2 linked regions of the Homo sapiens genome follow. The protein of the gene in region 1 interacts with the protein of each later gene in a biochemical or structural test. Each region holds a gene or a part of one and is shown in the gene's direction. Other genes may lie near its edges.

The links.
Region 2: of the proteins of PRKAB1 (region 1) and ACACA, one has a biochemical effect on the other in vitro, tested with the Homo sapiens proteins (one study listed by BioGRID).

Annotation. Positions count from the first base shown.
Region 1 is NC_000012.12:119,671,124-119,678,156, forward strand, and holds part of PRKAB1 (5'-AMP-activated protein kinase subunit beta-1), read left to right. Parts: intron 1-1,177; coding exon 1,178-1,341; intron 1,342-2,840; coding exon 2,841-2,934; intron 2,935-3,216; coding exon 3,217-3,331; exon of another isoform or gene 3,332-5,303; intron 5,304-5,413; coding exon 5,414-5,547; intron 5,548-7,033. UniProt on the Homo sapiens protein: Non-catalytic subunit of AMP-activated protein kinase (AMPK), an energy sensor protein kinase that plays a key role in regulating cellular energy metabolism.
Region 2 is NC_000017.11:37,084,492-37,088,869, reverse strand, and holds the end of ACACA (acetyl-CoA carboxylase 1), read left to right. Parts: intron 1-1,430; coding exon 1,431-1,554; 3' UTR 1,555-3,878; downstream 3,879-4,378. UniProt on the Homo sapiens protein: Cytosolic enzyme that catalyzes the carboxylation of acetyl-CoA to malonyl-CoA, the first and rate-limiting step of de novo fatty acid biosynthesis.

The DNA of each region.
Region 1 (7,033 bases):
TTCAGTCTTTGTCTTGCTTTATTCCCCAGTCCCTAGACAGAACTTTGTGAGTAGTTTTTCCCTTCCTCAAAATCTGGATTTGCCTATTTTCAAGTTGACAGCTCTAGAATTGTTCCTCTTAAATTTTCATGTACAGTCATACATCACTTAATGACAGGGACATATTCTGAGAAATACATCATTAGGTGATTTTATCATTGTGTGAACATCATAGAGTGTACTTACACAAACCTAGTCTGTTCTCATGCTACTATGTAGAAATACCCGAGACTGGGTAATTTATAAAGAAAAGAGGTTTAATTGACTCAGTTCCGCATGGCTGGGGAGGCCTTAGGAAACTTACAATCATGGTAAAAGGCACCTCTTCACAGGACGGCAGAAGAGAATGAGAGCAAGCAGGGGAAATGCCAGATGCTTATAAAACCATCAGATCTCATGAGACTCACTCACTGTCAGAGAACAGCATGGGGAAACCGCCCCCATGATCGATACCTCCACCTGGTCCTGCCCTTGACACGTGGGGATTATGGGGATTACAATTCAAGGTGAGATTTGGGTGGGGACGCAGAGCCAAACCGTATCACCTAGTCTATATGGTGTAACCTGTTGCTTATGGACTATAAACCTGTACAGCATGTTATTCTACTGAATACTGTAGACACTTATTCCACAAGTATATTTAAGGATTTGTGTACTTAAATGTATCTAAACATAGAAAAGATAACAATAAAAATATGGTATAATCTTATGGGACTACCATATACACAGTCCGTCGTTGACTAAGACATCATGCACATGACTGTACTTCAAATCTTGCTTGATTAAGGGAGGAACATGACATTAAGCTAGTCTTGGATTCGTAGTAGCCCCTTCCAAGTGTGTTTCATAGCTTCTTCTAGAATTTTGATGTCAACTTCTTTAATGACAACAATAGCTAATAATTAGCACTCACTGTGTCAGACACTATATAGAGCACTTACATGGACTGTCTCAGTCTTCACAACCTTAAAAAATATATTTCTATTTTGCAGGCAAGGAAACTGAGGCACCACTAGTAAGTTTCCGATCCTAACCATGAACCAAGATAGTAACAGCTGCGTCTTTAGAATGAATTGTCAATATTGTCTGTTGTAGGGAGCTCGCTTATGGCTTTCTGAGTAAACTGCTCTGCTTCTAGGCACCAGAGAAGGAGGAATTCCTGGCCTGGCAGCATGATCTGGAAGTGAATGATAAAGCTCCCGCCCAGGCTCGGCCAACGGTGTTTCGATGGACGGGGGGCGGAAAGGAAGTTTACTTATCTGGGTCCTTCAACAACTGGAGTAAACTTCCCCTCACCAGAAGGTAATTGCCTGGGGAGTGTTCACATATTTGTCTTAACATAAATTCTCTTCTTTCTAAAACATCTCTGAGAGAGAACAGAAAATGGATGTTTCTATAAAATGGATGCCTAGTGGAAAAATAATTTTGCTTAATAAGTCTTAAGGTTCAAATGTTAAACCTTGGTGGTCTCTAGGTTTAGAGTACAGAAGAAAGAGAATATTTCTGTGTCACAGACATCTTTCACTTCAGATCCTCAGCTATCTGTTCGGTCAGGACTTTTCCACAGAAACACAAAAATCTGTCTTAATGCAGTAAGGGAGCACTGGGCTGGAATCTTAGAAACCCACATTTGAGCCCACATTGGCCATGCTGTCAGTCACCTAACGTTAGTTAACCTGAGCCTCAGCGTTCGTTTCTGTAAAGAGGGAATATTGGACCAGATCATCTCTGAGGTTTCATCTAACTTTGACTCTGCGTAATACTTTGTTTGAAAAGTACATGTTGGCTGGGCATGGGGGCTCATGCCTATGATCTCAGCACTTTTGGGGGCTGAGGCAGGAGGATTGCTTGAGGCTAGGAGTTCAAGACCAGCCTGGGCAACATAGTGAGACCCCCATCTCTACAAAAAAATTAAAAATTAGCTGGACATGGTGGTGCACACCTGTATCCCCAGCTACTCGGGAGGCTGAGATGGGAGGATTGTTTGAGCCTGAGAGGTCAGTGCTGTAGTGAGCAGTGGTTGCACCACTGCACTCCAGCCTGGGCAACAGAGCAAGACTTTGTCTCCAAAAAGAAAAGAAAAATACATGCTATGTAGGTGTCATTAGCAAGGATTATAGTAAGACATTTTATCAGGAACCCCAGCATGGACTTCTGTCTTAAGTTGTCAGTGAGAGAACACCTTTAGTGAGTATTCTTGATAAAATGAGGGAGAAAGTGTCAGGCCTATTGTCAGGGGCTGCCTGCTTTCCAGCGTTTCCATTGGAGAAGGAGGGAGCCACTCAGCACAGCAGTCACAGGTCAGTTCAAGCCAGGGGACAAAACAACCCAGTGAAGGGGCTCTTCCGGAGTTTGGTTTTTCAGTCATTAGGCAAGTTTCTTTAGAGAACATTTGAGCTTCCTATTCAATTGATCCCTTCTCCTGCCCAAGGCAAAGTGACAAAGGGTAAAACGAGGCAGCTTCTGTTTATCTTGTGTTGTCATCCTCCTTGGCATCCAGGAGCCTTGCGAGCTTGAGACGCACAAATGCCTGACTGTTGACCTTTTAACATTAGGGATGTGGTTTCCTGGTATTTGAGTAAGGTGAGTTTTCAGGAAACTGTGTCGCACTGCTGCTTCCTTATAGCCTTTTCAGATTGAGGTCATTATGCTGAATTGTCTAAATGGGCTAAAAATGTTTGTTCTCCTGCAGCTGAACTCTTGGTTTTATGTGGAAACGTTTTGTTCTGTAGCTGGTTTGGCAAGTAAGCTCGGGGGGCAGCCCACCCCACGGAAGTCCTCTGCTTCCTTTTTCCTTGCAGCCACAATAACTTTGTAGCCATCCTGGATCTGCCGGAAGGAGAGCATCAGTACAAGTTCTTTGTGGATGGTCAGTGGACGCACGACCCTTCCGAGGTACTCTTCCTCCCACCTCTGGTCCTCTGGGTGCCCGCACATTCCAAACAAATCACCTTCCCAAGAGATTGCCGCTAGGTCCCTTTGCCCAGCTAGTAAAAGTCCCCGTGTGTGGCAGAGCTGAGTAGCAGCACTACCTGTCAGACAGTTGGCATACTTGACCAAGATGAGCAGGGTGGCTAGCCAGGAGATGAGGCCTTCCAGCCAGGAATTCCAAGTCCTCTGAAGAATAACTCCGCAGACCTTCCACGTTATGATTTCTGCCTATCTGTCTCTTCCCAGCCCATAGTAACCAGCCAGCTTGGCACAGTTAACAACATCATTCAAGTGAAGAAAACTGACTTTGAAGTATTTGATGCTTTAATGGTGGATTCCCAAAAGTGCTCCGATGTGTCTGGTATGAACACAGTTATTTTATACCACATGCGTGCAGGTGGGGGCTGTACAGTCTAGACATACTCTTGTTTCTCTTGCCTCTCTTGAGCTGAAGCTGCCCAGTCAGATAGGCATTTATAGCCCCCACTTAAAGGCCACAGAACTTAATTCCTGTCAGGTTGTTGAAATTTAGCCCTAAGGGAGCTACAAGTCATTTCCCTGGTCATCTCAGGTATTCAGTAGGTCTGCTTGGCCACAGAACGCAGACAGCAGAAATGGAACCATAGCTTGATCTCGTGCCAAGGGCAGGGCTGAAGAGGCCCTGGAGGGTGGCACTGAGTCAGTGACAGCCCAGCACTGGGGAAGCCTGTGTCTCATCCCACTTGTGGTGCCTGAAGAATTTCAGCCTGACAGGTGTAAATGGACACCTCAGTGACCTTAGCAGTCACTTATGTGGTACATTAGCACCTTGTCAGAATCCCTTTGGGGAGGATGCGGCTCCCCACGGGAAACAGCCTGCACAGCCCAACTCTCCTTGATGGGAAGCTATTTGGTACAGAAATACAGACCCAGTAAAACTTCTCCATCTTGTAAGAGCCTTTCAGGCATCGAGGTTTCAATAAATTGCTTTCCCTCCAAGCCCCACAGGAAGAAACTACCTGGAACATGATTCATACAGTTCGGGGGAAGAGGGTTGCGATCTAAAGTGTTCCCCTTCTTGGAGGCGGGGGCTTAACAATTCCTGGACTCTGAGGGAGGCAGTGGAAAGATGCCCTGGCAGAATATCTGGCGCCCTAAGAAAACAGATTCCGTTCGTTGACAGGAGAGTTCTTCATCATTGTCTAGTTAGGCCTGGAAGTTCTGCCACCAGGATTTCTTGTTACCAGTTCAGAAATCACAGTGGTAAAATGATCACAATGGGCTCACTGTGGTTGACAGTTTGTTGAGCAGGACTTGGAAATCCGAAATCTGTGCTTTTATCTGGGTAATTAGTCTTTTAGAGATATCATCTAGTTTTTTTGCAGATAGTTGAGAATCAGGGAATGGAGGAAGTGTGCCCAAATATCCTCCAAAATATATAACTTACTGATACATGTAATTTTAAGCCACTTACAAGCTTTTTAGTCAAATTTCCACCTAGGGAAAGGAAACGGACCCCTCACTGATACGAAGCTAATTCCACGTTCTCTACAGACTTCTGTTTCGACACTTACTTCCTCAAAATGTTATTTACTCCTTATGGCTCAGTTTTCTGCACTTCATGCTTTTCTCAGTTTCTTGCTGTGATATGGTTGGGTCACATAAACGGGGCTTGTCCCCTGAAAAATGACATTGAGGGAATTGGCAGAGCTGGGGCATAGCAGATTTTCCCTGGACCAGTCCCAGGATCTGGCGACCAGAACCATCCCACGCGTTCTTTGGATGATGGCTTGGTACCTTCTGGCTGGCCAAACGTCACTATCCAGTGTTCTAGCATTATGAAATCCTGCTCTTGTAGCAGCTTCTCAGTGTATCTGAATAATCCAGATACTCAAGCAAGAGTTTGGAAGGAACTTGAGTGTAATGGAGTTAAAGAGCCTTTAGATATTGGGCTTTCAATTTTCCCCCCCATTTTGAAATGTGCCTCGTTTAGCCTGTTTTCTCCACGGCCTCTGTGTAAACAGACTGCCTCATCTTCTGTTGCATTGCGGCCGGGGGTGCCCATAACTTGGACTTAGCTACTCAATCCTCACTTAGCCTCCAGCTTCTTTGTGGTTTTGCCAGCCCAGCCTGAAGGGAGAAGGAAGTCTTATTCTGCCGTGCGTGTGGGATTAAGTTATCGAGAATAGCCTCCTTGTGATCTGACGCAGACTCACTGGCTGGGCCGTGTCTTCCACCAGGGCATCTGAGTTGACTACTGAGTTGTATGCTAGTCACCCAGATTCCAAAAGGGTTTTCTCCTCTCCTCTATTCTGCACTCTTGGAACCAGTGCATCCTTCAAGAGAATGTAAATCTGCATTGAGGGAACAAGAGACAAGGAAAATGAGATGATGACAACATAAGTAAGGCTGCTCCTAGAATGCCTGATTTTCAAAGTAAAGTCCTGTTACCATCTCCCAACAGAGCTGTCCAGTTCTCCCCCAGGACCCTACCATCAGGAGCCCTACGTCTGCAAACCCGAAGAGCGCTTTCGGGCACCCCCTATTCTCCCCCCACATCTCCTCCAGGTCATCCTGAACAAGGACACGGGGATTTCCGTAAGTATGTGGGCATCTGCCCGGACCATCCGCCGTGGGTCATGTTCAGTTGCTTTCTTTCCTGTGTCCACCTCTTGCAAAGCAGCTGGTGAGCAAGCTCAGTGTCACCCCCTAGTGTGAACTGTGCCGTTCACCTCTGCTGTGGGGATGGGCTGATAACAAGAGGTTCCCAGTGTGGACACCGCTGCCTCGTCTTGCAAAGCCTTTCTGCACTACTCTTCCTTGTCCTTCACGCCTGCCTCAGTCTAAGCCCTGTTCAATTTACATTTCATGACAAACTGTATCACCATCTCTTCTTAGTAAGCTACATGCTCTGGCCCCCACATTTTAGAATCTAGTTTTAATCATTCAATTGCTTTTAGAAATATCAGTACTCCTGGATCAAAATTTGGGATATCTAGGTAACACACATTTCTCCTCCGGGAAATTATTACATGCAGAAAAGAAGTGTGTGTCCTCCTGGATCTTGAAGAACAGCCAGTTCTGTTGTGATTCTGTTTTCTGTTCCATCTAACCTGGATTGCCTGCCCAGTCCGCCTAGCTCTGGGATGCATGGCACAGCCGTAATTCTTGGGAATCCAGGAATTCAGCTTGGTCCAAGCTACCTCTTAAGAGGCATTGTTTACGAGGTGCTTAAAGTAACCATGCTGCTACTGAACACTCCACCCTGAAGTGGAGGGCATGTGTGCTGAGACGAGGAATGCACGTGTACACATGCAGGTGTCCCTACAGTGGTCCCTGCCGGGCTGCCAGGACAGGGTCTCAGTGCTTGTTACCCTACAGGGTACCCAACAGGGCTTGCCTTTCTCAGGTCACCTCCTGTGCTGGGAGTGCCCCTGCAGCTGGGTAGCCATCCTGGTATAGGCCCAGAAGAGGCCAGTGGTAAGGACAGCACGCCTCAGCTGGCAGGGCCCACCATCTTTCCAGCACTGAGTTGGCAACAGTCTCAAATAGGTCACAGGTGAAGAGTTTCAAGGACATGTAGCTTCTGCCTTAGAAGCACTTAGTTGACACTGCTTCCCTTAGCTCTAACTTTACAAAGGTTGGTGGGTAAGATGACTTTCAGTGCCCTCCTAAGCTAGTGAGGTTTGTTTTTTTTTTTTTTTTTTTTTGAGACGGAGTCTTGCTCTGTTGCCCAGGCTGGAGTGCTGTGGTGCCATCTTGGCTCACTGCAAGCTCCGCCTCCCGAGTTCACGCCATTCTCCTGCCTCAGCCTCCCGAGTAGCTGGGACTACAGGCCCCCGCCACCACGCCCGGCAAATTTTTTGTATTTTTAGTAAAGATGGGGTTTCACCATGTTAGCCAAGATGGTCTCGATCTCCTAGCCTCGTGATCCACCCGCCTCGGCCTCCCAAAGTGCCGGGATTACAGGCGTGAACCACCGTGCCTGGCCAGGTTTTGTTTTTTCTAGAAAAGGGAGGCATCACTAGCCATCTTCTCTGATGGAGACTGCTGCTGGGAATAGACAAGCTGAGAGTGGCCCAGG
Region 2 (4,378 bases), on another chromosome or scaffold:
CAAATCATGAGATGATCGCAGAAATCTTATGATCTCTGCAGTCTCTTGCTGTTTGAGACAGCTGTAGTTGACCCACAGGTACAGATATGGCCTGAAGCCCAATTCTTTTTCAGCTACTGCTCCCCAGGGGCACTTAGTAATCTCAGCTAGATGAAGGCTTAATTCACTGTGCCCACCTCTTAGCTCTGAATGCTGATACTCAAACCGGATGAACAACTCTGGGAGGAAAGCTGATTGTGTGTGTGGTGGTTTCCTGGGAAACCACCTCCTCACCTCCTGAAGCCAAGAGTTAGCTGTATTCTTCTAGAGGCTTCAGTCTGCTCCATAGGATCGGTGGTAGAGACTGCAGGGGCATTTTTGTAAAAGTTTATTTGGAAACATTTCACTTACAGAAAAGTTATAAAATTAAAAACAGTACAAAGAACACCCCTATATATAATATCTGTACTCAGATTTACCTGTTACATTTTCTCCCCGTTGCTATATCACTTATGAGTGTGCCTGCCCTCCCATATGTGTATACATTTTTCCTCTTTCTGAACTACTTAAGGGTGTTACATATATCATGGCCTTTACCCCCAAATATTTCAGTGTGCATTTGCTGAGAATAGGGATACTTTTACATAACCATCATAAAATGATCCACTTTTGTAAATTTAACATTGATTAAAAACTTTTATCTGATATCTACCATCTGTAGAACATTGCTCATTTTGAGTTTGTCTGATGTCTCCCCATGATGAGATGCAGGTGAGGCACTCTGGCCAGAACCTTCACAGGGCACCACATCTGGGGGCACATGCTGTTTATCTGCTCCTCCTCGTGTTAATTTCATCCGCTGGTCAAGATGTTGCTCCATTTCTCTACCGTATAATTACTGATTTTCCCCCCTTGCACCTAATAAGTAGTCTGCAGGAAGACATTTTAAGGCCATGCAAGTATCTTGCTTTCATCAAAATTTCCCTCTGGTGCAGTCTTTACGATGAGCTTGCAAAATGATAACTTTCCAACTCCAGCACACCCTCCACAATTACCAGTCACCACTCAGTCCTCACTCCTGCCGATTCTTTTATATATACATTATTGGTACAGACTCATGAAGTTCTATTTTTTACTGATTTATAATTCATTGCTGGGCTGCTTTTGATGCCCCAATTGCTGTCTTTGTGACATGCCCCCATTGGCATGTTTTGGGTTTTTTTTGGGTTTTGTTTTGGGTTTAATTCCTTTTTCAACATAGCAAAATGTTTTGGGTTTGTCTTGCACTACCTTGGCTGGATATTTGTAATATAGGGAAACAAATAAGGTGAGGCGTGACTAAAATGTCTGCAGTGGACGGTGCACACATGTTTATTGGGCAGTTCTTTAGCTGTCCTCATCTAGACACTTCTGCTTCTCTTTTCTTCACCATTCTCAATCTTCCTTTCCAGCTTGGTCCAGGCCAATCCAGAGGTTGCCATGGATTCCATCATCCATATGACGCAGCACATATCACCCACTCAGCGAGCAGAAGTCATACGGATCCTCTCCACAATGGATTCCCCTTCCACGTAGGAAGAGCTTCCTGCCTGTCCCTGCCCTGTCTCTGGAGAAAAGGGCTAGAGCTGCCTTTTACAACTGTAACCACTGTAATGAGAAGGCACAGGAGACCCAGCACTGGAGTCAAATGGCATTTTACTTCCTCTCGTTTCAGGTTATGCATGACATCCTGGGATGTAAGATCACAGAATCCCCCTCCAGCCCACCAGTCACACCTACCCCATTCAGTATTTATTACCCTGGCCAGGCCTAGTCCTCCACTCCCTGCACAGGACTGAGAAGGCAATGAAAGGTACAAACATGTACCATGAGGTCTTACTAACCAAAGTAGGGCTGCCCCTCCTGTCCTGACAGCCCCTTGGCCTCCCAGCATGGGGAAGCGTGAGGAGTTGCCCAGCAGTGAGCAGCCCCCCTCACTCCTGGCCCCATGAGCCGCAGCCACAGGCAGCAGAGGAGGGCTAAGGAGAGGAGGAAGCCTCAAGTCCATTGTTTATTACCCCGACTCTTAGCCCAGCACACAGTAGGCACTGGAGAGGAATGATTCCCAGTTTAACCACACTACGGTACCTTTTATGAAGAAAAATTAGAGCATAAAATCTACTACAAGCTCCATAGGAACTCAAAGATGAGGGCAAAACTGTGAGCCAAGAAGCAGAGAAAGAAAATAGAACCAGTTATTCTTGATTTAGGGGACCTCAACCTTGGGTTCAGTCTCTGAGGACAAAGGGAAAGGTAGTTGTTGGCCTGCCTCTCGCCTGCACGTCACTGCTGGACTAGCTGTCGCATGTGGCTGGGAGCTGCAAGGCCAGTGCTTGAGGGGCCCCAGCAGTTCCACAGGTGGTGAAGCCTGAGTTGGCAGAGGAGGAGCCAGAAGAGAACTGCCCTTTCTGCACTGGTGGAAACTAGTTATTTATGCCATGTGGAGAGCCAGTGAGATAGATAGATAGTCTGTTTGTTTTGAGGACTTGGAAAGTTGTTCCTATGAAGCCTGGAGCTTGGATGGTTTTGAGAGGTTAATGGTGCCTCCACACTCACTCTTCCCTAGTTCCAGGATTACTGTCCTAGCAGCTAACGGTTCTACTCTCTTCCCCAGAGTGTAGACAGGCAGCAGGTCTCCCCACAGCTCTGAAAGGACCCTGGTGACAGCTACACCCTCAGCACCAGGAGCTGGCCTTCCTGATGAGGGAGGCTTCCAGGAAACACAGAATCCACATGACCTTAAGATTATTTACAACTCAGTCATGGTGCTGCTGTCCTCCAGGCTTACTGGCCCCTCCTGACTGGCATCAGGGGCTTCCTCAGGTGGTGGAGAGAGTTTACTTTCAACAACTAGTTTATTCAAGAAAAGAACTTACTGATTCCTCTGTTCCTAAAGCAAGAGTGGCAGGTGATCAGGGCTGGTGTAGCATCCGGTTCCTTTAGTGCAGCTAACTGCATTTGTCACTGATGACCAAGGAGGAAATCACTAAGACATTTGAGAAGCAGTGGTATGAACGTTCTTGGACAAGCCACAGTTCTGAGCCTTAACCCTGTAGTTTGCACACAAGAACGAGCTCCACCTCCCCTTCTTCAGGAGGAATCTGTGCGGATAGATTGGCTGGACTTTTCAATGGTTCTGGGTTGCAGGTGGGCACTGTATGGCTGGGTATGGAGCGGACAGCCCCCAGGAGTCAGAGCCTCAGCCCGGCTGCCCTGGTGGAAGGTACAGGTGTTCAGCACCTTCAGAAAAGGGCATAAAGTGGTGGGGGACAATTCTCAGTCCAGGAAAATGCATTGACCATTGCTGGCTATTTGCTTACCTAGTAAGAATTGGATTCATTTTTGACCAGATTATTCTTCTATGCTTTTTTGCAATAAATCAAATCCCACATATCTACAAGTGGTATGAAGTCCTGCACCCCCCAGGAGGCCTGTCCAGGCATGTCTTCAGAGGCAGGGTGGGTTACACTCATTTACCTCCCCTCTCCCCACCAAATTATGACACAAACGAGTATGTTTCCTCTCTAGAACCCTGTAATGCCTCCTCCCCCATCCCCAGAGCTCCTTACTGTAGGTCTTACCCTGGACAAGGATTTTTTCAAGTTGGAGGCACAGAACATGAGCAATCTGACATTCCCACAGCCCCTCAAACATGCAAGGCTACTAAGGCAGGAGGAGTATAAATGATGGATATTGACCAAGACCTGCTTGGACGGAGACCGCCATATTATCTGTTCTCTTCGTTCACAAAACAGCCTTCACTTGTCTCAGAATTTGATGGACACATACTGTGATGAGCAGGAGCTTCAGATGCACTCTTTACACATTTTGTTGAAATAAACCTCTACATTTGTAGAAGAGTTACAGTTTGTCATTTCAATCCATGCCCAGCCACCTCATTTCTTGTTCTGCTTTCAGCAGGGGCTCAGTGTGGGGCAAGCCCCTCCATGGCCCTGTAACACCTAAAGCCCTTTGTCTCCTGAACTTGCATAAAGATGATGGGTAGGCAGTAAAAAGCTGGCCTTGGCCAGCCCTGTCTTATCCGCTGAATCAAGGTCAAACTCTGAAAGGCTACAAATGCTCGGGAACCCCGTAGCAGAGGGTCAGTTTTTTAGTTTCTGTTGAGTTTTTCAGGATGGGAAACTTCTTCCTGCTGAGAGCTGGATGGGAGTCCTGGCAGGAATGTCCCCTCCAAAAGAGAATGTCTTTAGAGCAGGGACAAGAAAGACCACAGCTGTTTAGTGAGGATAACAGCTCCAGGCCTTGGAAGCCCAGAGCCCACTGTCCTCCTCAGAAGTCCCTTCTCAGCATACAGGAAGTTGAGAGTGCTCTGATAACTCAGTGTAAACACTGGGGCCGC